Homo sapiens: one gene and its partner. The protein of the gene in region 1 purifies or fractionates together with the protein of each later gene. This does not show direct contact. Each region holds a gene or a part of one and is shown on either strand. Other genes may lie near its edges. The genes, in order: RRM2B and INPPL1.

What was found.
Region 2: the proteins of RRM2B (region 1) and INPPL1 purify together in Homo sapiens (affinity purification with mass spectrometry; 3 studies listed by BioGRID and IntAct, with this or other methods). This does not show direct contact.

What each region holds. Positions count from the first base shown.
Region 1 is NC_000008.11:102,232,112-102,249,649, reverse strand, and holds the start of RRM2B (ribonucleoside-diphosphate reductase subunit M2 B), read left to right. Parts: upstream 1-10,688; 5' UTR 10,689-10,775; coding exon 10,776-10,823; exon of another isoform or gene 10,824-10,827; coding exon of another isoform or gene 10,828-11,091; intron 11,092-17,345; coding exon 17,346-17,501; intron 17,502-17,538.
Region 2 is NC_000011.10:72,234,767-72,243,010, reverse strand, and holds the end of INPPL1 (phosphatidylinositol 3,4,5-trisphosphate 5-phosphatase 2), read right to left. Parts: intron 7,896-8,244; coding exon 7,808-7,895; intron 7,716-7,807; coding exon 7,560-7,715; intron 7,337-7,559; coding exon 7,258-7,336; intron 7,166-7,257; coding exon 7,025-7,165; intron 5,888-7,024; coding exon 5,215-5,887; intron 4,970-5,214; coding exon 4,836-4,969; intron 4,749-4,835; coding exon 4,658-4,748; 3' UTR 3,864-4,657; downstream 1-3,863. Other genes in the region: PHOX2A (paired mesoderm homeobox protein 2A), read left to right, coding at 1,722-1,909, 2,729-3,262. UniProt on the Homo sapiens protein: Phosphatidylinositol (PtdIns) phosphatase that specifically hydrolyzes the 5-phosphate of phosphatidylinositol-3,4,5-trisphosphate (PtdIns(3,4,5)P3) to produce PtdIns(3,4)P2, thereby negatively regulating the PI3K (phosphoinositide 3-kinase) pathways.

The DNA of each region.
Region 1 (17,538 bases):
GAAATACAGGGCCTTGATCAAAGCAAGCACTTTTTTTTTTGAGATGGAGTCTCGCTCTTTTGCCCAGGCTGGGGCGCAGAGGTGCGATCTCGGCTCACTGCATCCTCTGCCTCCCAGCCTCAAGCAATTCTCGCGCTTGAGTCTCCTGAGTAGCTGGGATTACAGGCACTCACCATCATGCCCAGCCAATTTTTGTATTTTTGTAAAGACGGGGTTTCACCATGTTGGTCAGGCTGGTCTTGAACTCCTGACATCAGGTGATTCGCCCGTCTCGGCCTCCCAAAGTCCTGGGATTACAGGTGTGAGCCACCGCACCTGGCCCTCACTCATATTTTTTGAATGAAAGAATTTATTTCTAAAAGGTGCCAAATTATCTGGAACCACTATATTACCTATAATAAGTGCAGCAGTAGAGCACTATATAGAAAAGCTATGGTCCTTGACCTGGATGAGAAGAAATGTACATTTTCTTGATCACATGAACTTCTTGGAAGAATTGTAAAACACTGATTCTCTTATTTTTAAAATAAAACTTTAGCAGATCTTGGGACACCTGTTTAAGGGAGGCAAAAACTTGCCAGGTTTAAGGTACAGCAGCTGAAGTGTTTAAGTGATCTGAGAAAGTGAAAAAGAACTAAGGTTTCTGTGCAATTTTTTTGTCATTCTGTACTTTCCCCTACTGCTAATGCCCTAAACCAATGCAAGTTGAGTACAGTAACAAGAGGGTCCCTGCCCTCCCACAGCTATGACTTTACCCTAAAAGCTTCACAGATATTCCAACTCTCACCACTCTTGGTCCATCCATGTGCTATCTGAAACTAGTTTATGTGCTCATTGTCTGACTTCCCCTAGTGACCCTACACAATAATAGCAGAGGCTATCAGAAACTCTATCCTTGTTCACTTCTCTTAAGCCCAGTGTGTACCACAATGCCTGGTCAAAAATCATTTATGAATCAGTAAATTATATAGTTCCCATGTCAGAAACGGAATCATTCAATTCCCTCTTTACCCCTAACATTCATATTAACCATCAAGCCCTACAGTTACTATATATTGAACTCTTGAGTTAATCTACTTCTCTCCACATCCACTATCATTACCTAACTTTGTCACCACCTTCTACCTAGATTATGTCAATAGCTTACTAACCAGTTTCTGTTTATTGTTTTGCTCCCTTTAATATGTAGAGGCAGAACAAGTTCTAAAATGCATATTAACCATTTTACTCACTCACCTGTTTAAAATACACTGACTTTCCACGGATGGCTATGTAAGATGAAGTTCAAACTCAACAAGGCCCTTCATGATTGGATCTTGCTTTACAGCCTTATATTTACTTACTATCTTGTTATACTGAAAGACTTGCAGTCCCCTGGTGGGTTATGACCTCTATCGCCTTGGAGCCTGTATAAATACTTGCTCCCTCTGACCTTACTGCCCACTCTTTATGGCCCCTCATCTTGGAATGGTTAGTTCCTATTCATAATTCAGAATCCGGTTTACCCACCTCTTTGAGGTGCTCTCCTTGACCTGCCCTCCACCCTCCACCTTGACAAAGCTGTTTTACTTTCTTTGTACTCCGTCTGAACAATGTATCTGCTTGATTTTCCCTTCTACTCTGTAAGTTCCTTTAGTGTAGGAACTCTGTCTCAATTACCTTTTTCTCTCCAGTGCCTGGTAGAATGTTAAATTTATTGAATGGATTCAAATGACCAACTTCAATCCAATTTAGGAACATACTATTGTAATCTGTTGTTTTTATCTCACCTGGAACTCTGCACCTTTGAAATGTTGTCTTATTATCCAACTCTATGACCCAAAACTCCTGTCCTTCCAATGCTCTCACACTTACGAGTAAAAGAAAGTTGTCTCACTTCTTTTCTTCTGCATTTAGCCTAGACATAGCAACTTATTCTGAAACAGTTAAGAGGGAAAATGTTCTTTGTACTGAACTCGAAATTTTTTAGAAAAAATCTATATTGCTTGTTGATTCTTTTGCAAAAACTGCTTTACTTACTATTAATGTGACGGGTTGCTAAGTATGGCTTTCAGGTTGTCACAGCTGGATCAGATCAATGGCTGAGCCAATCAGTTCTGAACCACATTACTAGAAACCCCCAGTTGGATCTCATGAGAATCATGATCTTGACATGTCCAAAACAACTCACTATTTTCCTACTAAGACTTCATGGGCAAAAGGCACTGCTAACTGCCTAGTCTCTGGATTAGAAACTTGTAGTCATTGCTGGGCGCAGTGGCTCACGCCTGTAATCCCACCACTTTGGGAGGCTGAGGCAGGCAGATCACCTGAGGCTGAGAATTCGAGACCAGCATGACCAACATGGAGAAACTAGTCTCTACTAAAAATACAAAAATTAGCCAGGCATGGTGGCGCATGCCTGTAATCCCAGCTACTTGAGAGGCTGAGGCAGGACAATCGCTTGAACTCAGGAGGCGGAGGTTGCAGTGAGCCGAGATCGTGCCATTATACTCCAGCCTGGGCAACAAGAACGAAACTCTATCTCAAAAAAAACAAACAAACAAAAAAAAAAAACTTGTAGTCATCCTAGAATCCTCCCTCTACCCTACACTCCATATCCAACCACTGATCAAGTCATCTTGAGTACATTTACTTAACTCACATGCACGGATTCTTCTTGCATTCCCCACCACCACTGCCTTATTTCAAGCTTGCTTTATCCTGTACTGGGCCTATTCCAACTAGCTCTAAACCAATCTAATTCCAAAATTTTCACCTTCCTTCACACTGGAGGCCTTCCTGAATTATAAATGAATGGCTCATTAAATATAGACCTGTTTAGTGATTTTCAAACTAGGGTTCAGGATCTGCCAATTTTCCACAAGCATCTTATTTTGATTCTTAATATATATATGCAGTATCTTGAATTACCTGGTTGACCATTTATGATGGCACTGATGTCAAATAATACATAAAAACTTAAAGAATGGAATTAAATATGTAAATGACACATTTGTTCCTTATGAAAGGCAACTGATAAAAAGAGTTGTAGAAAAAGTTATCCCATGGCTACGATGCAAAAAAACATGCTTCATTAATGGTCACTATAAAATTCACACTGATGCAATATAGTTTCAGCAAAGCAACATCATCATCCATTGCTTTTGGTTGTAAACTGGAATTTTACCATTTCTATAGTCTTGTTTGTATTTAATTTATAGATCTACTTTTAGTTGTGTAAAGCTCCAAGAATAAGGAGTTTATTACTGGTCTTAGGTTTGTACATACTTAAGTAACAATACATATGTAGTTTAAGTCAATATCAAAGTGGCTGTGAAAATTTTTTTATTTAAAAGGGGTTGAGGCCAGGCACGGTGGCTCACACCTGTAATCCCAGCACTTTGGGAGGCCAGGGCAGGCGGATCACTTGAGGTCAAGAATTTGAGACCAGCATGGCCAACATGGTGAAACTCCATCTCTACAAAAATACAAAAATTAGCTGGACATGGTGGTGTGTGCCTGTAGGCTCAGCTACTCAGGAGGCTGAGGCAGGAGAACCCCTTGTACCTGGGATGCAGAGACAGCAGTGAGCCGAGATCATGTCACTGCACTCCAGCCTGGGCGACAGAGTCAAGACTCTGTCTCAAAAAAAAAAAAAAAAAAGGGCAGGGGTGTTGAGACATCAAGTTTGAGAAATGAGGATTTACCCAGTAAATGACATACAATAAGACAGCAATAGCTTGAAATTACATATTTTCTATACAAAAGGCTAGCTTGTCTTCCTAGGCGATCACCACACAAATCTCTAAGTGGAATGGATGCTGGACCAGTTACTATGGCTGCATAACAAATTATCCCAAAATTGGTGGCTTAAAACAACCATTTGTTAGGCTCGTGGATTCTGTGGGTTAGGAATTTGCACAGAACCCAAGATGGTGTTTTTCCTGCTCCATAATTTCTGGGGTTTTCAACTGGAAGGCATGACAGCTAGGAGTTGGATTCCTCTGAAGGCTCATTCATTCACACATCTGGAGGTTGATGCTAGCTGTTGGCTGGTGCTTCAGTTGCTTTCCATGTGGACTTCCCATGTAGTCTCTCTGTGTGAGCTAGTTTTTGGCTTCCTTTAGCATGGTACCTAAGCTCCCAAGGAAAGTGCCCAAAAGAGAGACAACACCAAAGCTATCTGTAGTGTCCTTAATGAATGAGGCTTAAAAGTCATGCATCACTTAACAACAGGAATATGTTCTGAGAAATGTGTCATTAGATTATTTCATTGTTGTGCAAACATCATAGAGTGTATTTACACAAACCTAGATGGTAATGCCTACTATACACCTAGGCTGTATGTGGTATTGCTCCTAAGCTACAAACTTGTACAGCATGTTACTGTACTGAATATTGTAGGCAACTGAAACACAATTGTATTTGTGTATCTAAACATAGAAAAGGTACAGTAAAAATATGATATAAAAGGTTTTTTTAAAAAGGCACACTTGTATAGGGCAGTTACCATGAATGGAGATTGCAGGACTGGAAGTTGCTTTAAGTGAGTCAGTCAGTGAGTGAATGTGAAGGTTTAGAGTATTACTACACACTACTGTAGATGCCATAAATACTGCATACTTAGGCTACAAGAAACTTATGAAAAATATTTTTCTTTCTTCAATAAATTAGCCTTACCTTACTGTAACTGTATTTCAAAAACGTTTTAAATTTTTAAAGCTTTTTGACTCTTTTGTAATAACACTTAGCTTAAAACAGTGCATAGCTGCACAAAATTTTCTTTCTTTATATTCTTATTCTATAAACTCTTTCCTATTTTTTAAAATAATTTACTTTTTGAACTTTTTTTGTTAAAAACTAAGACACACACATGCATTAGTCTGTGCCTACACAGGGTCAGGATCATCAATATTACTGTTTTCCACCTCCACATCTTGTCCCACTGGAAGGTCTCCAGGGGCAATAAATACATGAAGCTGTCATTTCCTATGATAGCCATACCTTCTTCTGGAATACCTCCTGAAGGACCTGCCTGAAGCTATTTTACAGTTACTGATTTTTTTATATATATAATTAGAAGGAGTATACACTAAAATAATGATAACTATAGTAAATACATAAATCAGTAATATAGATTATCACTATCAAGTATTATGTAGTGTACATAATTATATAAGCTATACTTTACACACTGGCAGATTTGTTTACAGTAGCATCAACACAAACACATGAGTAATGTGTTGTGCTATGACTATAACGTCACTATGATAGGAACTTTTCAGCTCCATTATAATCTTATAGGACCACCACCATATATGGGGTCTATCATTGACCAAAATGTTACATGGCACTTGACTGTATCCTATTTGTTAGAAGTTAGTATTAATAGCCGGGTGCCGTGGCTCACGCCTGTAATGTCAGCACTTTGGGAGGCCGAGGCAGGTGAATCACGAGGTCAAGAGATCAAGATGATCCTTGCTAACACGGTGAAACCCCGTCTCTACTAAAAATTAAAAAAATTAGCTGGATGTGGTGGTACTCGCCTGTAATCCCAGCTATTCGGGAGGCTGAGGCAGCAGAATCACTTGAATCCGGAAGGCGGAGGTTGTAGTAAGCCGAGACCGTGCCACTGCACTCCAGCCTGGTGCCCGAGCGAGACTCTGTCTCAAACAAACAAACAAACAAACAAACAAACAAAAGTTAATATTGATGGCCTATATGCAAAGGGAAGTGCATTAGACACCACCTTTTAAGGGGAGGTGTATCCAAGTTCTGGAACAGCATATGGTACCAGAAATATTGTTGTGGCCATTTTTGGAAAATACAATATGCCATAAAGTCCATATGAAGATGCAGAATCCTCTTACTCCTTGAGATCTTTCAGTTACGCGTGTTATTTTTTTCCATTTGCTCTTCCAATAACTTTGAACATCCTGGGGGAAACTCACACTGCCTACACTATTCTGAGTACTGTGATGTTTTTGCTGTGTCATTTAAGAATATTCAATTCTGCCACAGAAATTGAGAGAAACTAAGTATGGGAGCAAATGGCTTGTTAGACATAATGAAATTTGTAAGATGTATTAAGTATAAATAATAAATAATTACACTGTGAGGCATGTTAAAAATAGGATGAATGGAACATATATGTATTGAACATACACAAAAATAATGGAACACATGAGAGTTCCACTTTTAGATTAAAAGGGCTAGAAGGACCAAGTAAATTTTTTTTTTTGAGACGGAGTTTCGCTCTTGTTGCCCAGGCTGGAGGGCAGTGGCACAATCTCAGCTCACCACAACTTCCGCCTCCCAGGTTCAAGCGATTGTTCTGCCTCAGCCTCCCGAGTAGCTGGGATTACACGCTTGCACCACCACGCCTGGCTAATTTTTTATTTTTAGTAGAGACAGGGTTTCTCCACGTTGGTCAGGCTGGTCTCGCACTCCCGACCTCAGGTGATCTGCCCACCTCGGCCTCCCAAAGTGCTGGGATTACAGGCGTGGGACACGGTGCCCAGCCCCAAATAAATCTTAAATATTCATAAGGTAATGATCATGTTACTGCCAGACTGACAACTATGTTATCCCTAAACCAGCCACTCACTGGTGAGATCCACTCTGGCCCCACACGTGCTCTGTCCAAGAAACACAGATACCATCCATAGCTGCTCAGTAGGTTAATTATAACTGGTTATAAATGCAGTTATAGCTGGAGTCAGGTTCCAGCAGTTCTCCAAAAGAAAAGTGTGTGCTGGCTCCACCTTCTACCTGCTGAGCAGTCTTGCTCATCCTCACTATGGTCCTCATAACTACACCACCAGCAAGGAAGTCTGATGCATCAAACAGTACACGAACAGTAACATTAAGATTCAGATGGTATAATCCTTCCACTCTCTCCCCTCCCCACATCCTAACCAAAATATGTTAGTCCACTCAATCTCTTTCCCCTTGCTGTTATGTTTTAAAATGATTTAATAGGGTACAGCTTGTGTGCTTGTTTGGCACAGAACTGGCACCTGTTTTGTGAAGTGGCAGCTAAGAAGACTCTGGCTGACAGAAAGCCCAAAGAAGGAGGCAAGATTGAGAACAACAATCCTATTAATTTGAAGGTGGCAGGGCAGAATGGGTCTGTGGTGCAGTTTAAGATTAAAAGGCATATTCCAGCCGGGCGCAGTGGCTCACACTTGTAATCCCAGCACTTTAGGAGGCCAAGGTGGGCGGATCACCTGAGGTCAGGAGCTCGAGACCAGCCTGGCCAACATGGTGAAACCCCGTCTCCACTAAAAAAAAATACAAGAATTAGCCAGGTGTGGTGGCAGGTGCTTGTAATCCCAGTTACTCGGGAAGCTGAGGCAGGAGAATCACTTGAACCTGGGAGACAGAGGCTGCAGTGAGCCGAGATCCCGCCACTGCACTCCAGCCTGGGTGACAGAATGAGACTCCGTCTTAAAAAAAAAAAAAAAAAGGTGTATACCACTTAGTAAATTAATGAAAGCCTATTGTGAACAGGGTTAGGCAATGAGGTTGATCAGATTCTAGACTTCATGTGCAACCAATCAATGAAATAGACACACCTGTAAAGTTGAAGATGGAGGCTAAAGATACAATTAATGTGTTCCAAGGACAGGAGGTTTTGACTAAAAATGGAGCCTGCTACTTTATTACAGAACTCTGTTCTTACGGACCAAGAATGCATTTTCAATTAGAAAACTGCGATTTGGTTCCATCACACCCTGACTACTACAGTATAGTTTTCTCTATCATTTTCCTCTTCCCCATTACTTTATTATATGTATATATTAGTTACAATGTAACTATGTAAACAATTAAATGTGTAACTGCAAGATCTCTAGGAGTAACAGAATTCTACATCTTCATATAGTCTTTATGGCATATTGTATATGCCATAGTTATAATGCATAAAAGCGTATTGCATTTTTTAACCAAATGGTCAATTTTTTTTTTTTTTTTTTGAGACGGGGTGTTGCTCTTGTTGCCCAGGCTGGAGTGCAGTGGCGCGATCTTGGCTCACCACAACCTCCGTCTCCCGGGTTCAAGTGATTCTCCTGCCTCAGCCTTCCGAGTAGCTGGGATTACAGGCATGCGCCACCGTGCCCGGCTAATTTTGTATTTTTTTAGTAGAGATGGGGTTTCTCCATGTTGGTCAGGCTGGTCTCGAACTCCCGACCTCAGGTGACCCACCCGCCTTGGCCTCCCAAAGTGCTGGGATTACAGGCGTGAGCCACTGCGCCTGGCCCCAATGTTATCTTTTGATCCGCATCAAATGAAGATAGGATGGGCGGAGAAATATGGTTTTGTGAAGACTCCCTTCTCCATTAATGCCATGCTCATTCAGGTCTTATCTTTATATTCCAGTTCGTTATTTTGCTCTGTTTTAACCAAAAAAACCCCACACACAAAACAAAACACCATAACAGTTTTTGCATATCTTCTTCAGTTGAAGAATTGTAATGTATTTTGTTTATGATTGTAAAGCCAAGGACAATTCTTTTTTTTTTTTTGAGACTGAGTTTTGCTCTTGTCATCAAGGCAGGAGTGCAATGGCACAATCTCAGCTCACTGTAACCTCTGCCTCCAGGATTCAAGCTATTCTCCTGCCTCAGCCTCTCAAGTAGCTAGAATTATAGGCATGCGCCAACACGCCCGGCTAATTTTTGTATTTTTAGTAGAGACGGGTTTTGCCATGTTGGTTAGGCTGGTCTCGAACTCCTGGCCTCAGGTGATCCACCCGCCTTGGCCTCCCAAAGTGCTGGGATTACAGGCGTGAGCCACCGTGCCGGCCTAGCCAAGACAATTTTATAACTCTTTGTACGTGGCTATTACATGTAAGGCAATCTTTCAGTAATGACACATTACTCTTAAAAAAAAATCCTAGTTTTCCTTTCAAGTCAAATGTCTTGTTTGAATAAACTTATTTAAAATGAAAATAAATTGATTTAATAAACTGTGTGACTCAGGCATCTCAATTTGATCTGAGCCTTTTGAACTCAGCCATCTGAGTTCCATGACCCTCTGGGATGGCCTGACTCGTACGTGGAAGCTACCATTGCATCAAGGTAATTTCCCACCCCAATAAGTGTTTTACAAGTAATATATTATTAAATTCACACAACAACCTTATGAGGAAGGGATTATTATTCTTATCCTGTAGATGAGAAAGCTGAGTCTCAGAGAGGTTAATTGACCCAAGGTAGCATAGCTAATAAGTGAGGGAACTAGAATTCATGCCCATGATGATATGACTTTTTCACCAAACTCATTCATGTTTGTATCTTGAATACCTAAACGTGATGCCCGACACACAATTATTGTTTGATGACTTTAATTGAATCTGATTATTTGCCACGTGGCCTATAGTAAATTGAGACTCAGTTGCCTAGCAGAATGTATGTGGCTATTATTTAAAGTTCACAGATGAAAAAAATTTCACTCAGCATTTGACCCCTAGTAGTTGCTTTAAGAAAGACTGTCTACCCCTACGCTATGGCAGGTTTGAGAAAGGGCTTTCAGCATTTTCAACGCTTAAAGTGAGATCTTGATCCTATTTACCATCCTTCAGCCAGCCACAAAACAGGTGCATGCTGTTCAGGTCATGGCAAGATCCCGTCAATCTTTCAGCTTCAAACTACTTAAACAAATCTCTCTTCCATTTTATTTTTGTTAGACCAAACTATTTTTTTCAAAATATATTTTTTTCAAAATATTTGCCTGACTTTAGTAACGTGTCCCTCTCCCCCTCACTCACCCGCATTCACACACACACACACACACTTTCCCCCAGACACTTCCCCTTTTCGGTTGTTTACGCACGAAACCAGCCAGCCCTTTCCCTAGCGAAGTGTTTGGCGGTGTAGCTGTCCCGTCCCCGGCGCTTCCCACAGCAACAGCGCGTTCTCTTCGCCTCCCGCAGTCTCTCAGGACAGGCCAGGCTAGCGCAAAGTACCGTGTTCCTGGAACACCACGAGGGCGAGCTCGGGAATCTCGAGCCGGCCTGCAGGACACCTGCCGCACCAAGTGGCTAGAGCCCGGGGAGGGCGAGGCGAGGTGGGACGAGGCGGGGTGGTGAGCGGGCCGGGAAGGCGAGGCCGCGCGGACTCTGGGATAGCTCCTCAGGAGTGGGCGCCCGGAGTGGGCGAGCGGAGGAGGCGGGGCCGATGAGGTGAGGTGGGGCCAGCTGGAGTAGGCTAAGCAGTCCAGAGCAGGGGGCGTCCCTCAGTGGAAAGCCGGGCGACTGGGCGGTGCAACAGAGTAAGGCGGGGCCAGCGGAAGCAGGGAGATTTCCTTAGGCCGCAGGCGGGGAAATGGGGCTGGCCGGGGTAGGCGGAGCCCCGAGGCAGGGGAGGCGTGGCTGGCAGAGGTAGGCGGTGCCCCAAGGCAGGCGGGGCTTGCCGAGACAGGGATAATCCCTTAGGCCACAGGCTGGGAGGCAGGGCAGGCCGAGGCGGGGAGGATCCCTTAGGCCGCAGTAGGGGAGGCGGGTCGGCCGAGGCGGGGAGAAACCCTTAGGCCGCAGGCGGGGAGGCGGGGCTGGCCGAAGTTAGGCGGAGCCCCGAGGCGGGGGAGGCGGGGCCGGGCCGGCGCAGGGAGAGTCACTCAATGGACAGGCGAGAAAGCAGGACCGGCGCGGCGGGGCGGGGCCGGCCGAGTCCCTAGAGCTGGGGGCGGGGCGGACCCAGCGGACCAGCGGACCACCTGGGTGCTGTCGTAGTTGGAGGTGGCCTGAGGAGCTCAGTTCCCTCAGCGCCCGTAGCTTCGGCGGAGTCTGCGCGATGGGCGACCCGGAAAGGCCGGAAGCGGCCGGGCTGGATCAGGATGAGGTAAATGTTGCTGTTGCGTCTTCCCCCTCACCGCAGTCACGCCAGCCCGTTAGATTGCAAGTTGCAGGACCGCTGTAGGAAATGTTATTCGCCGCGGTCAGGACAGGCCTGTCCGCCCGCCCTCGCCGCAGCCTGGCTTCGTCGTTGCGAGCGCCGGGGAGGCCGTCCCCGGGGAGGGCGGAGGAAGGAGCTGACTTTGGGTTTGCGTCCCGCTCGCTGCTCTGCCCCGGGGCCAGCCAAGGACGACGCTTGGAGGCCTCAGGCCGGGGTGAGACTTACCCCTGCGTTTATCCGCCTCACGCTCTCCCACCCTCCTTCCCTGTTTTGGAGCCCTGGCCAGGGAAACCGAGGCAAGGAAAGAGGACTGTGGCGGCTCTGCTGGAGAGGTGCATACCATTTGGGATGGTGACAAGGAGTTGGAGAACGCGTGTGGAAATTGACACAGGTGGCTGGGGTGAAGATGACAGGTAGAAGGGGACACGAAATCCTCATGACCTCCTCCCAGTGAAAAAATCAGGGTAGGAGGCCAGTTTTGCTCAGGCCCGGCTCCTTAACTAACTGAATCTTCGGGGTGTCACTTTCTTCCTTTATACAATGGAAGTGATACTTCAGAGAGAATTAAGTAAAATGCTTTATGCAAAGTGCCACGAAAATTGTAGGTGCTTAATAAGCCCAAGTTGTTCATCCAAGTTGTTTATGCTGATAAAAGTACCTAAAATAAATAAACCAGAATTTGTTAGACTGTAGGATTGTATGGTAGTTTAAACTGTTGCTGTATAATTTTCAAACACTGTCATTTTGCAAATACTTCTAAGCCCTTTGTGGACAAGAGAAATGCTTTTTGTACTACTGGAACCTGTTGCTGTGGTATCTTTGATTTAATACTGTGAAGATTTGGGGGAAACAAACGTTTCCACCCCAAGAGATTCATGCTTGGCCCTACATTTCTTTAGAAAGTTGTAGATTCCAGGTTTGAGATTTTATTTTATTTAACTTGATTTTTGTAAGCATTTAGTAACTAACTGTAAATATCCCTCAAGCTTTTTCTTCCTGTTTTGAAACAAATGCGTTTAGTACCAACTTCCCTACTCAAAGGGGAAAATTCAGACTGCTGTTTATGCTAATGGCACCAGCAGTGATTCAGGCTTAACACCTGGATATTACATTTTATTTATTACTCCTATCTCAATGATACAGACCCGCAAGGACAGACAGAATTTTAGATTCAGAATGAATTTTAGTGGTCCAAAAGTTTTTAACTTGAGATGCTGGGTTGCCTGAAGCACTTTGTTTTTCTAGATGCCAGAGTGCATAATAGGAGACCTGCATCAGAGTCACTTGGAGTATTTTGTAAAAAATGTAAATTGCTGGACCAACACCCCAAACATAGTGAATCAAAATCTCTTGAGATCTGCATTTTTAACAAGTACTTCAGGTGATCCTGGTACACATATTAAAACAAAAACAAAAAACCCCCCACTGTCTTAAAGGGTCCATAGATAGACTAGAAGGGGCTTTATAAATCTCCTGAAGTGATATGTAGATTTTGTATGTGCAGATGTGAATCTTCTGAGAAAGGGGTCCATAGTTATTGTCAATTTCTCAGAGTTAACTATTGCTAATCTAATTCATAGTCTATTGTCAAGGTAAAGTTTAGGCCAGAAAACATTAAATGGCATGCCCAGGACTCAGTAGAGGAGCTAAATTTAAAACCAAGTTCTTGCACCTGGGCGGGTATCCCATTGGTTCCGTCAGACTTTGTGGGAATAGAAGTGAAAATAATACTTACAAGTAGTGTATGACTATGACAACATACAGCTATTTTACAGAAGTAGAAGAGACATAAAGGCAAAGAAACGGAAGTGGTGGAATTGGGGCTGGATAGGAGGTAAGAGCCTGGTATGATGCCAGCCTAGATTGGGGCATCGTAAGTGCTTGCTGGGAAATCTTGACCTAAATTGTTGTCCTGACATGCCCAGGCATGTCTTCCAACTGGGTGACCAGAAATTGAGTCAGTCGGAAACTGGAAGTACCATTCTGGAAAAAACAGCAGAATGTCACTAAGGAATGCCTACTGCTAAACTTTATTTCAAATTCTCATCACTTTACACCTGTGCGGCTATAATAATTTTGTTGTTTCTCTATCTCCTATCTTACCTGCCATTCAATCCTAATTACCATTGCCAAGTTAATCCTTCATTAGACCAGTGCCTCAGTGTCACTGACCCTGTGTCCCCCAAAAAACTCCCAAAAGAGTCTCAATTCCTACCAAAAAGCCTGGCCAACACCTCAGGCTGGTGAAGTCTTGTTGAAGCTGCTTTTTTCATGCTAACTGCCACATCTTAATTCAAGTCCTCATTTCCATCTTTGAAATTGGTTCCTTAGTTGCTTGCAAAATCTAGTTTTTTATCAATTAATCCTATACGTGGTTTTCTGATTAGTCTTCCTAATGCCACCTCTATTCATGTTAATTCCCATTCAGAAACTCTCCATGACTATTTGTACCCCCAAATCTGTGGGGTACAGATTTTCAAACTGTACCCTGCTATGAACGCCAGCACCTGGGGTTGGGGGCAAATGGGGAGAATTGGAGTATGAGCCTTCTAGACCTCCGATGTTTGAAGATCTTTGGCCACAAAATTGATTCCTAACCTCTTAGTCTGATTTATCTTAAGAGTCTAGATCCTTTGCTTTAGCCAAATCACATCATTCCTACTTTTGCTTTTCCTTGTCCTGCATCCATTTCAGCCTGTTTTAATCTCAGCTGGCTTCTCTTCTTTCATCTGCCCTTTAAATATCAGCATTCTCTAAGACTGTATCCTCAGTTGTCTTGCTGCTCTATATGTTCTCTCTGGATAATCACATCCATTCCCTTGGCAACCACTAATGGGATCTCCATCACTCGTGTTCTGCAGTGTTATATTTTTAACTGCTTACTGGACATCTTGAAACTGAATTCATTATCTTTTCTATTCTTTTTTTTTTGAGACGGAGTCTCACTCTGTCACCAGGCTGGAGTACATACAGTGGCACAATCTCGGCTCACTGCAACCTCTGCCTCTTGGGTTCAAGTGATTCTCCTGCCTCAGCCTCCCGAGTAGTTGGGAGTACAGGCGTACGCCACCACGCCCGGCTAATTTTTGTATTTTTAGTAGAGACGGGGTTTCACCATGTTGGCCAGGATGGTCTCAATCTCTTGACCTTGTGATCCGCCCGCCTCGGCCTCCGAAAGTGCTGGGATTACAGGCGTGAGGCACCACGCCGGGCCTGAATTCATTATCTCTTCTAATGACCTAGTTGACTTTGTGAGGATATTGTGTTTGTAACTTTGTTGTTGTCGCCTGGCTTGGTGGGAGGAGTTAAATTAAACTTCCGTTAAACATCTAATGTGAGAAGCAAAATTTTTGTCTGATTTATTTATTTATTCTCCAGGTACTGAGCACCTTGTGTGTGCCTTTTAGATCTTGTTATCACCCAGTTACTGGAGCTGGAAACATCAAGGGCATCTTTAACTGTTCTTGCCCCTTGTCCCAAATTCAAATTTTTAGGAAGAATAATTCATTCTACTTCTGAATATCACTTAAATCAATTTTTGTGTGTGTTTCTAGTTCAGGCAAGAGATGGGTAGTACAATAATCTTTTCATTGTTCTTTCTGCCTCTAATTTCTCTTCTAATCTAGCAATGTTTCTAGAAAAGCGATCTTAAAAGATATATCTGATTATGTTATTTGCCTTATTAAAAACCTTCAGTGGCTCCCAATAGCATACATCTTAGAGTTATTAGATGCCAAAGTGTTTTATATCAAAGCAGACCACTTTAACCTCCAAAATTTTTTAAAAATCAGATTACTACTAACCAATTTTGCTCTTTTATTAACCCTGTAAAAATATAGATACCCATGAGCTTTGAAATTTCTATGTCTAGTAGGCTGCTCTCTCATGCACCCATATATTTCTTTTTGTTTTGTTTTGTTTTTTGAGATGGAGTCTTGCTCTGTCACCAGGCCTGAGTGCAGTGGCGTGATCTCAGCTCACTGCAATCTCTGCCTTCTGGGTTCAAGTGATTCTCCTGCCTCAGCCTCCCGAGTAGCTGGGACTACAGGTACGCGCCACCACACCCAGCTAATTTTTGTATTTTTAGTAGTGACAGGGTTTCACCATGTTGGCCAGGATGGTCTCGATCTCTTGACCTTATGATCCGCCCGCCTCGGCCTCCCAAAGTGCTGGGATTACAGGCGTGAGCCACCGCGCCCTGCCCATCATATCTTTTTTCACATTTTTTTTTTCTTCTAAAATATGGGTTCTTAGATTAGGTCCACAGAGGGTACTGTGGAGAGCCTAGAGTTTCAAGATGCATGAACTTTCTGAAATTGTATTCAAATGTATGTTTGTGCACGTTTCTAAGCATTATGAAATAATACGTCATCTCTAGCCCAGCTCAAAGGTTGATGTTGGTTAACCTCCTTCTCTTCACATTGCAAAATCCCTCATAATACACTCCTAATCCAGCTACTCCTCTTAATAGTCTACAGGTTATCAGGATAGAACAGGAGAATGTGTATACAAATGTGACTTTCATTCTAACTTAAAGGTACTAGTCTTCAGCAGATCAGTTATTTATCATCATTTAAAAACTTCATTCATCGTCAGGGCATTTGGTGCTGAAGAGTGACTGCTTGTGATGTCCTTCCCAACTTCCAGTAACAAAAGTATAGAAGTTCCCAACTTTCATACTTTGAGTATATCCCAAATTTCAGTAATAAAAATAACAAAGGCCAGGAGTTTGAGACCAGCCGGGGCAACATAGCATGACCCCCATCTCTACAAAAAATTTAAAAATTATCCAGGTGTGGTGACGTGTGCACATAGTCCTAGCTACTTGGGAGGCTGAGACAGGAGGATTGCTTGAGCACAGGAGTTTGAGACTGCAGTGATCTATGATCACACTACTCTGATCTATGCACTCTAGCCTGGGTGACGGAGCAAGACCCAGTCTTAAAAAAAAATTGCTCAAATATTTGTGGAATGAGTACCAACTAAGTGCCAGGTACTGTGCTAAGCACAAGGGATTCTACAAGGGTGAAAATGGATTTTACTTTCAAGAAGCACAGGAAATTAGAGACAATTAACAGGGAATTAAATTGCAGTGAGCTATGTACTTATATCTGGAACCTAACCCAGACCTTTGGGGTGATGTGAAGAGGGGAAAATGTGATTGATTTTAATGGTTATTGGGTTGTCTCACTGATGTATTGTGGTCCTATGTTAAATTAAAATTTTCTAAAGGTACCTAGAAATCTGAGTACAGGAAGAAGAGAAATTAGCAGCCCATTTACTTAGCTAACATGCTTGACACGATACTAAGCTCTGGGAACATCACAACAAATAAAAATTGGTTCCTCTTCTCCAGGGCTCAAGTGCTGTATCTGAGGAGGCCCATACCTTTAAACAAGTAGTTAAAATCAAGACCATCTGTACTGTGATGGCAGTAGGTATAAAGCACGCAAGCCCCCCTGTATTTGCATAGCCGTATGCTTGTATTTTGGGCTTTCTTCTTGCTAAGCCTTAGCCTCCTCTGCTATAACAGTTGCTTTGGCGAGGTGACAATGGGTGGACGCTGGAGTAAGGAACATAACGGGCCTGTCACAGTAGAGAGAGAGACAGTTTTGGATAGGAGTCTAGAAGTTGTATGTGTTCTAATCCTGGTTTATACACGTTTAGCTTATTTGTATGTCCTTTGTTTATACTCATTCTCACACATGTGCGACTCTTCTGATTCTCTTCTGATGTTCCCGCTATTTTAAAAATATATGCATGGCACCATTTGCTCTTAGAGTGCCATCGTGTTTTGAAGCAGTGTGAATACAGGTATGTGTTTCTCACTTTATTCACAAAGCTTTGAGACAGCCCACAGTGAGATCATATGCAGTAATGTTAGAATGTAAATAGCAGTAACAAATTGGAGTATCAGAAGGCTAAGATGAACAAAGGTTAAGTTGTAGGTAATGAGTTTTCAGATAAGTATTATATTATTTCAGTGAAGAGTAGAAAGAAAAAACATTAAAGTAGCTTATACCAGTAGCTTATTCATTCCAGCAATCTTATCAGAGAGGCTCTAAAGGGACATTTTGTTCACAAACTTAGAAATTTGCCCATCATGATGACATTTATGGGTCTAGCTTTGTACTTATCCTCAAACTAGCAATAATTACAATAATTTTTGAGTGCTTACTATATACCAGGCTTTGTTTAAAGCACTTTTAATCATCAGAATAAACCTATGAGGTAGGAATTATTTTACAGCTGAGGAGACTGAGGGTTAGAGAAGTTAAGCAGCTTTCTATGGTCACACACGCACTTCCTAACAGTATTAGTCAGCTACCAGGTAACAGTAAGGATTCAACCCAGGCAGACAGGCTCTCAAACCAATGCCGTCTCCCTGACTTCCTTAGATGTATGTTTAGGTATGAATAAAGAAGAAATGTCTATATAAAAGGCGTGTTTGTACTTTATTTTTCAAAGAGATCATCTTCAGACACCAACGAAAGTGAAATAAAGTCAAATGAAGAGCCACTCCTAAGAAAGAGTTCTCGCCGGTTTGTCATCTTTCCAATCCAGTACCCTGATATTTGGAAAATGTATAAACAGGCACAGGCTTCCTTCTGGACAGCAGAAGAGGTACGTGGCATTGCCTCCAAGAGCATTCACATCCTAT
Region 2 (8,244 bases), on another chromosome or scaffold:
CTGGGAAGACTGCCGGGGACCCAAGTAGAAGACTGGGGCCTAAGGGCCAGGCGCGGTGGCTCATGCCTGTAATCCCAGCACTTTGGGAGGCCAAGGCGGGTGGATCACTTGAGGTCAAGAGTTCAAGACCAGCCTAACCAACATGGTGAAACCCCATCTCCATTAAAAATACAAAAAAAAAAAAAAATTAGCTGGGCATGGTGGCCCACGCCTGTAATCCCAGCTACTTGGGAGTCTGAGGCAGGAGAATCGCTTGAACCTGGGAGGCAGAGGTTGCAGTGAGCTGAGACTGTGCCATTGCATTCCAGCCTGGGTGACAGAATGAGACTCGGTCTCAAAAAAAAAAGAAGAAGAAGAAGAAGAAGACTGGGCCCTAGGCTGGGGTTTGGGGAAGAGATACGAGAAATGAGAACCTGGATTTGGAGAAATGAGGCCCAGGGTGGGGAGATTGGGTACCCTGAGCCAGATGAGGGTAGGGATTGGGAAGAGGGGAGACAGCCTCCAGAGATACAGGGTTTTGAGACCAGAGAGATGGGGATAAGGTACAGAGAGATGGGAGCAGAGATGGAAGCACTGGAAATCCTAGGAGAAATGGGGACTCAGGGTTGGGGAGATAGAGATAAGTATCAGGCGATGGGGACCAAAGAAGATTAGAAATAGAGATGACGAAGATAAGAATACAAATGGGGTGCTGGAGACAAGAATCAGGGGAGATGGAGGCCTGGATGGGACAAAGATGAGATTGGAGACCCCTGGTGAATATGAAGACTTAAACCAGGGTTACAGACAGGGAAGGGAAGTACTGTCAGAAACACTACCTATGGGGCAGTGGAGACTGGGATGGGTATAGGAAGAGAGTTGGGGGGCAGTGTTGGCTTTGGAGGAGATGGGACATGGAGAAGGTGCCTGGGGAGGAAGAAGGAGGGCAAAGAGAAGATGGAGGAAGTCTTCTCAATGGGCGCAAAGAGAAGATGGAGGAAGTCTTCTCAATGGGCACAAAGAGAAGAGTGGCTGAGAAATGGAAAGTTGAAGAGAGATTCAAATGGAGGAAGATTAGGAAGAGGAGAGGGGGACATCTAGGGGAGAATGGGGGTCAGGGGAGTGGGGCAGAATTGAAGAAATGAGGCTTGGGAAGGGGAGAGGTGGATGGGTGGAGGGAGCCAAATCTGTATACAGCTGAGAGCCGGTGGGAAGGCTGGTGGTAGGGCTGAAAGGAGGGCCGGTGGGAGGGTCTCTGTTGCAGAGCCTTGGCCCAGAACTGGTTAGTGGGAAGACTGGCAATGCTGATGAGACCTGACAGACATCCAGGGCCAGGGTAGACAGAGGGGACAGACGGGCTGAGAGACAGACAGGAGGGAAGGGTCGGAGGCACGGTTGAATGGGGGTGCAGGGGGAGATGGAGGGAACAGGGCTTGGGAGGAGGGCGACGACGGGGGTGGGGTGGGGGAGGGAGTGTCTTGGCTGGAGTATTGGATTATGCTTTCCCCTTGGCCGCTCTTGGGGCTCAGGTCTCCCTGATCTCCCTCCGCCTTTATCCCGCCGGCTCCATTGAGTAATAGGGAGGACGCTCGGCCCCAGGCTGCCGGGACCAAGACGAGGGATCAGGCCAGGGACGGGGGAGGCGTGTGATTCCCCCGGAGCTGGACACAACGGGTTGAACTCTGCTTCTCACTCCCCCATCCTTTTTGCCCCCCCCCCGGCCCCCCTGCACACACCCGCAGTGCCCTACAAGTTCTTCCCAGAGCCATCCGGCCTGCACGAGAAGCGCAAGCAGCGGCGCATCCGCACCACGTTCACCAGCGCGCAGCTCAAGGAGCTGGAGCGCGTTTTCGCTGAGACCCACTACCCCGACATTTACACGCGTGAGGAGCTGGCGCTCAAGATCGACCTCACTGAGGCTCGCGTGCAGGTGCGTGTATGCACGTGTGTGTACGAGAGTGCGCATGGAAGGAGGTGTGGGAGCTTAATGTCTAACACCTGGGGGTAGGGGAATACAGGCAGATGCAGCCCGAAGGCAGGGCGCGGTCCCAGGGTGCTTGGGCAGCTACGGGAGGCAGCAGGGCCCGGACTTGGAGGCCCTTGGGAGACCCGATCTGTTTAGCTCCAGGCTACCTCCGCTCTGTCTCCCTCTTAGGGCAGAAAGTTCCGAGTGATGCTTGAGAAGCCAGGAGGGAGGCCGAGGGGCTAGAGGGGGAGACCCAGGGGACCTCAGGGCCGAGCTGAGGAGGAGAGGGGGCAGGCCAGTCAGCACCCCTGGGGTTCCCTACCCCGGCGCTGCAGCTTTGAAAACCCGGAGCCCGGGAGGCTGAGTTTGTGGCAGGCACAGGGCCGAAGAGAGCCGGGCTAGAGCAGACTGTTGTCTATTTGTACAACTCCGTGTACAGATGTTCAGTTGGCCCGCCTTGACTGGATGCCCTAGACAAAAGGTTTACTGGCGCCCTAAACTGCTCTCCACGGCCCTGGAACACTCCAGGAGGGAAGTCCCAGAGCTTCCTAAAAGAAGGAATTGGGGGAAGAACTTAGAGTGAGGAGAACGAAGGCAGGGTCCCCTCCGGGAGACCAAGAGTGCTGGGAGGCAGCAGAGTCAGCGGGTGAGTGGATCCCAAGGGCAAGAACCCAGGGATCTGGAGGCAGGGGCCAGTGGAGCGCGGAGTGCAGCGGGCTGCGTGCGGAGGGCCGAAGGCCCCTCCAACTAGTAAGAACCCGGGCCCGGTTCTTTCCGAACCAGGATCTCACTCGAGCCTTGCGGCCGCGGGCTGACCCCGTGCGTTCTCCGACCCTCGTCCAGGCTGACTGGCCCCTGTGCCCGCAGGTCTGGTTCCAGAACCGCCGGGCCAAGTTCCGCAAACAGGAGCGCGCGGCCAGCGCCAAGGGCGCGGCGGGCGCGGCGGGCGCCAAAAAGGGCGAGGCGCGCTGCTCCTCCGAGGACGACGATTCCAAGGAGTCCACGTGCAGCCCCACGCCCGATAGCACCGCCTCGCTGCCGCCGCCGCCTGCGCCCGGCCTGGCCAGCCCGCGCCTGAGCCCCAGCCCGCTGCCCGTCGCACTGGGCTCCGGGCCGGGACCTGGGCCGGGGCCACAGCCGCTCAAGGGCGCACTGTGGGCCGGTGTGGCGGGCGGTGGGGGCGGCGGGCCTGGCGCGGGAGCGGCCGAACTACTTAAGGCTTGGCAGCCGGCGGAGTCCGGCCCCGGGCCCTTCTCCGGGGTTCTGTCCTCCTTTCACCGGAAGCCCGGCCCCGCCCTGAAGACCAATCTCTTCTAGCTGCCGGCCTCTGGAGGCTCCGAGCCTGCCCCCAGAGACGTCCCTGCCCCTCCAGGACCTGACAGCCCCTCCCATCCTGGCCACCCGCCTGGAAGTCCCCATCCGTCTCCACTCCCTACTGTCTCACCCCTCGGTGTGTCCTCCCCAACTTTGGAGACCAAGTCAGGGCCACTCTCGTCCTCACCCACCCTCTACCAGCAGAGCGGAGTTCTTTATACCGGGACCTCCTCCAGGAGAACCCCGGAGCTCCTTCTAGCTTGGCCTTCTTTGGATGCGGTATCACATGAGGCCTGTCCCTAACAGTGCCCTCAAAGTGAAGGTCCTCAAGGAGGATCGGCACAGCCCCCTTCCCTGGCTCTGCAGCGGCTGGGTCACCCCTTACGCTGGTGATCAGGAAAGCCCGCTGCCCCACCCCTCGGGCCCACCCGTACAGAGGCTGGTGGTCGCCGGGATAATTAATGACCACCGCCAATTCATCCCTCACGTGTCTCCTCTCTTCCCTAGCCCGTCTGGCACAGAGGGTGGACCTGTTAGAGGAGTGGAGGGGCTGCCTGGGGAATGGGACAGAGGGATTCTCTTTCCCTAATTTTTTTGGTTGTCCTTTTTCTTTGAAAAACTTGTAATTTATTGAAGTTTTACTCAATCCAAATAAAACTTAATTTATTGAAGACATCACGCCGCAACCCTTACGACTGCCCAGGAGGCTGCTTGCAAGACCCTGTCCCGGGCTGAGACCTGCGAGGAACCTCCCTCCCCCACCCTGCCGCCGTGCATCCCCAGAGCAGGGCAGCACAGACCAGGAGACAGTGAGAACTAAGCAAACTGGCACTTTATGGCTGAGATCCTGCCCCACCCCAACCAACCCCAATAATATTAAGGTGCTCTCCCTCCCCAGACCCACACAGAACAGTTTAAATAAACCCCAGCCCGGTCCTCGGGCTATTCCTTCATTTCCGGACGGACACCCGCCCCCACCCCCAGCGGGGGTGGGGAGGTCTTAGCGGAGCTCCTCCGCTGTGGTTCAGGCCCGGTGGAAGGCCGCAGAAACTGGTGAAAGTGGGGGCCCAGACGTACCCAAATGGACCCCCACAGGCACCCCTGGGGCTGGGAGGCGGGGTCCAGTAAAACAGGACAGCACCAGAGTAACCAGGGTCCTCGGTAACCATGGCAACTGACCTTCCGTCCTGAGCCTAAAAGGCGAGGGGCAGGATGCCCTAATTAGGGCATTGCAAATGATTGGGCAGCGGGGAATGCAGATCCCCAATAAATAGGCACCCCAATAAATAGGCAGAGAGATACTGCCCTGACCCTCATAACTTTTCAACCCTGGGGCCATAGCTGGGCCTTGGTAGCAGGGAGGGGCTCTGAGTTCACAGCTTCGTGGTGCCTCCGCTATCACTTGCTGAGCTGCAGGGTGTCCAGAAGGAGGCGCTTGTGAGCCGGGTCCTGCACCCCAGCCTCCTCCAAGTCCTCCTCGGTGATGTCACTGTGGAGTAAAACAGGCTGGGAAGTGAGATGGGCAAGGGGATCCTGAGGGCCCCAGCTCCGCCCCCGGGGCCAGCCCCTCCCCCACCTGAGAAACTCCAGGTCGTCCCAGCCATTATGCACCAGGCCCTCCTCATAGCGCTCCAAGCCGATGGCCCGCAGCCAGGCACTCATGCCTGCCTCGCCCAGCCCGCTGGCCCGCCCGCCCTGCAGGCACGGAGCCTAAGGAAACAGGGCATGTCAGGGGGAGCTGAGTGCCCCCCATAGAAACACCTGCAGTCACATTCTGCTGCATGCTCTGGGGAAAAGGAAGGGAAGGGCTGGGCTGATACATGTGTCTCCCAACTTCCCAGTGATCAGTTCAGGGTAGCAGGGACACCATGAGTGCTGAATGGTGGAGTGAAAGGGTACCAGTCTGTGGGCAAGCACACTCAGGCACACACAGACAGCCACCCTGCTCCACACACCTCCTCTGCCAGGTCTTCCTGGATGCTCTCCCGGATGCGGGGTGGAGGGAAGCTGAGGGGCCGGCCATAGTCCGAGGGCAGTCCCCGGGGGGGCTGCAGCTCCAGGGGGCCTGGGAGGAGCGCTGAGCGTGCAGGCCCAGCAGGGGCATAGTCCACCTCGCTCAGCGTCTTGGCCATCTGCAGCACCGAGCAGGACCGGTCATCCCCACTGGCCACTTCCCCCAGGAAAGTGCTGGCTGGTGAGGGGCCTGGGGGCAGTGGAGGCCTTGGATGGGCCTTGGGAGGTGGTGGGCCACGGGCCTCAGCCCCACCACGGCCCCGGACCACTGGCCCTGGTAAAGGATCCAGGCTGGGGGGCAGGAAGATGGCTGAGTCCGGCAGTGGTGGAGGTGGAAAGTCTGGAGGGGGCAGTGTGCCTCCAGACTCCTCATCTGAAGAACTCCCCTCTCCCACACGAGGGTGCCGGTGGTGCCCAAGCTGTGGAGCAGGCACTGTAATGGCCACTTTGTTCTTGGTGGCAGATGGGACAGGGGCCCTGGCAGGCGAGGGTGGCTCCGGGGGCAGCAGCTGGTGCGGGACCCCTTCAAGGACGTAGTAGGCAGGGTTATTGAAGCTGTTCTTGGGTGGGGGGGCCGCCACCCCTTCTGGTTCAGGAGCTCCCTCTGGCTTCAACCTGGGTGTGGAAGCAGAACGACTAAGCCAGGATCCAGGAACCCAGGTCTAAGGCAGTGGAAGCAGTGGAAGGAGAACTAGACGGGAGTCAGAAAGTCCCCTGGTCCTAGACTTTCTCATGACCTTGAGCACATCACCTGCCCTTAGTTTCTTCATCTCTAAAGGTCAGAGGGAGGATAACCCTTTGAATGGATAACCCTACAATCCCTTGCCTCACTTGCTAAGATACTTAGATCTTTCATGACTTTATCTGTAGCTGTGAAACCCAAGCTAAATGGGTCAGAATAGAGGTGCCAGAAGACAGGGCAAGAAGCCTCCAATGAGAGGCCAGGTTTGGAAAGCCTCTTGAGGCACCCACAGTCAATCCGCTGCAGAATCTTTCTCAGAGATTCAGGTGGGTCTTATTCAAGCCTAGGGATAAAACCGGGGTGACTGACAACAGCTGAAGATGAGTGAAAAAGCACCAAACTGTACCTAGGAGTTTATGTAAGTTTAAGCAACAATCGGATATAATTAGAAAGCAAGCCTCACTTTCCCAAAGTGTGACACAGAGCACTAATTCCCCAGAACGTTAATAGTTACTACATGGAAAATAAGTTTCCTGGCCCATTAAGTTTGGGAAACTATATTAAACAGAGCTGAAAAGAGGTTTCCTTCCTGTCCACATGCTCAGAGCTTTTGCTAATACTAACATGCACTGGGAATGTCTAAGAAAAGAATCTAGAAAAAGCATTTCCCAAACTCATTTGACCACAAACCCATTTCAACTGGGGCCTCTTGCAGGACAGAGTTCCAAAGAAGGTACCCTGGGAAATCCCAGGCCGAGCCATGTGCCTCCTCCAAATAGAAGGCTCAAGCTAGGTCTGTTTACATGGAGGGAGCTGTCTTAGAAACAATTTCGCATTCCATTTTTAAAGGCAGAATTGAGAGGAAAGGCTGACTGCTCCCTTTGACTCAGAGCCACAGCTAAGGGTGGCCTGGCTGGCCACAGGCATAAGGCCATGGCAGCTCCAACCACAGAGTGGCAGGGCACCTAAGCAGCTGATGATCTCCAGGCCAACCCTGAGACCCTGCAGGGGATAGTGATGGATAGAGGTGGGTGGGGGAAGGGGGGGCGGTGACAGGTTCCTCCTCTCACCTGGGGGTCAAGGGCTCCTCCCGGGGAGCTGCTCGGGGTGGGGCTGGGGGCCTCCCCGTTGGTGGCGGTTTCTCTGGTTCTTCAAATAACCTGGAGAGCGGGCAGGAGGCCTCTGTGAAGGCTGGCTTGCGGCTCCCTGACCTGCCAGGGATGCACAGGAGAGAGATGAAGTGGGGTTGACCAGATGCCCCCAGGTACCCTTTCATATGACATTCAACACAGCCCTAGCTCACCTGGGCTCCTGGCTCCCTCGGGACACAGAGGGGGCTTTGCTCTTTGCTCCTGCCTCATCCTTATCAATGCTGATCCACTCTGAGGGGGCAGGAAGGGAGACTCAGAGGAGACCTGGGCTCCTGGATCCCACAGACACCCAGTGGGCCTGCCAGCCCTTTCCCAGCTATGCCTTGGGGCAGGACTATTCCCAGCTGTGGCTGCAGAACCTCCAGGTATCCCAGAGATTCCAACATGCCCCCCGCACCCTGCCCTCCTTGATCTGTTCACACCACCCTATCTCATGTCCCAGTGGAGTCCCCACCGTAGAGCCGCTCACGGGTGCCCAGGCGCTCCGTGGGCACCCGCACCTTCATGGAGCCTCTGATATTGCCTGTCTCCTCGCCACGGTGGGATAGGAAGGTCAGGAACTGTTGGGCCGTGCTGCCGATCATGGATTTGAGTGCAACCACACACTCCCCTGAGGAGCAGATGGGACAAACCAGCAAATTACCAAGCTAATCTAGGGCCCTGTCTGGCTTCCTGTTCCCCTCAGCACCCCTCACCCCTCACCATAGGATTCATAGCCATCCATGGACTTGACTGTGAGCAGGAGGTGCTGGTCCTGCAGGTACTCGATATCAGCCAGAATTGGTTTGAGCTGGGAAGCAGGGAGGCCCAGTGAGGAACAAAGCCCCGCCACTTCCTCCTGCCCCTCCTACGCGCTGCCCCCTGACACCACTCAATCCCCACCCTCAGGTCATCTGTGCTCACTCACACTCAACTCTTCAGAGAAGAGCCAAATCCTTAATGCAGAAGACACAGCCCTATACAGGCCTTTTACAGCACCTAGCATCACTGTAACTAATTAATTTTCTCAATAGCTAACACAGGACCTGACATCTAGCAAAAGCTCAAGAAGCATCTCCTGAATGAATGAACAAACTGCAACAAGGTTCCACACTCCCAAAATAAAGCAAACGCCTTTATCCTCACTCATGCCCATGCCC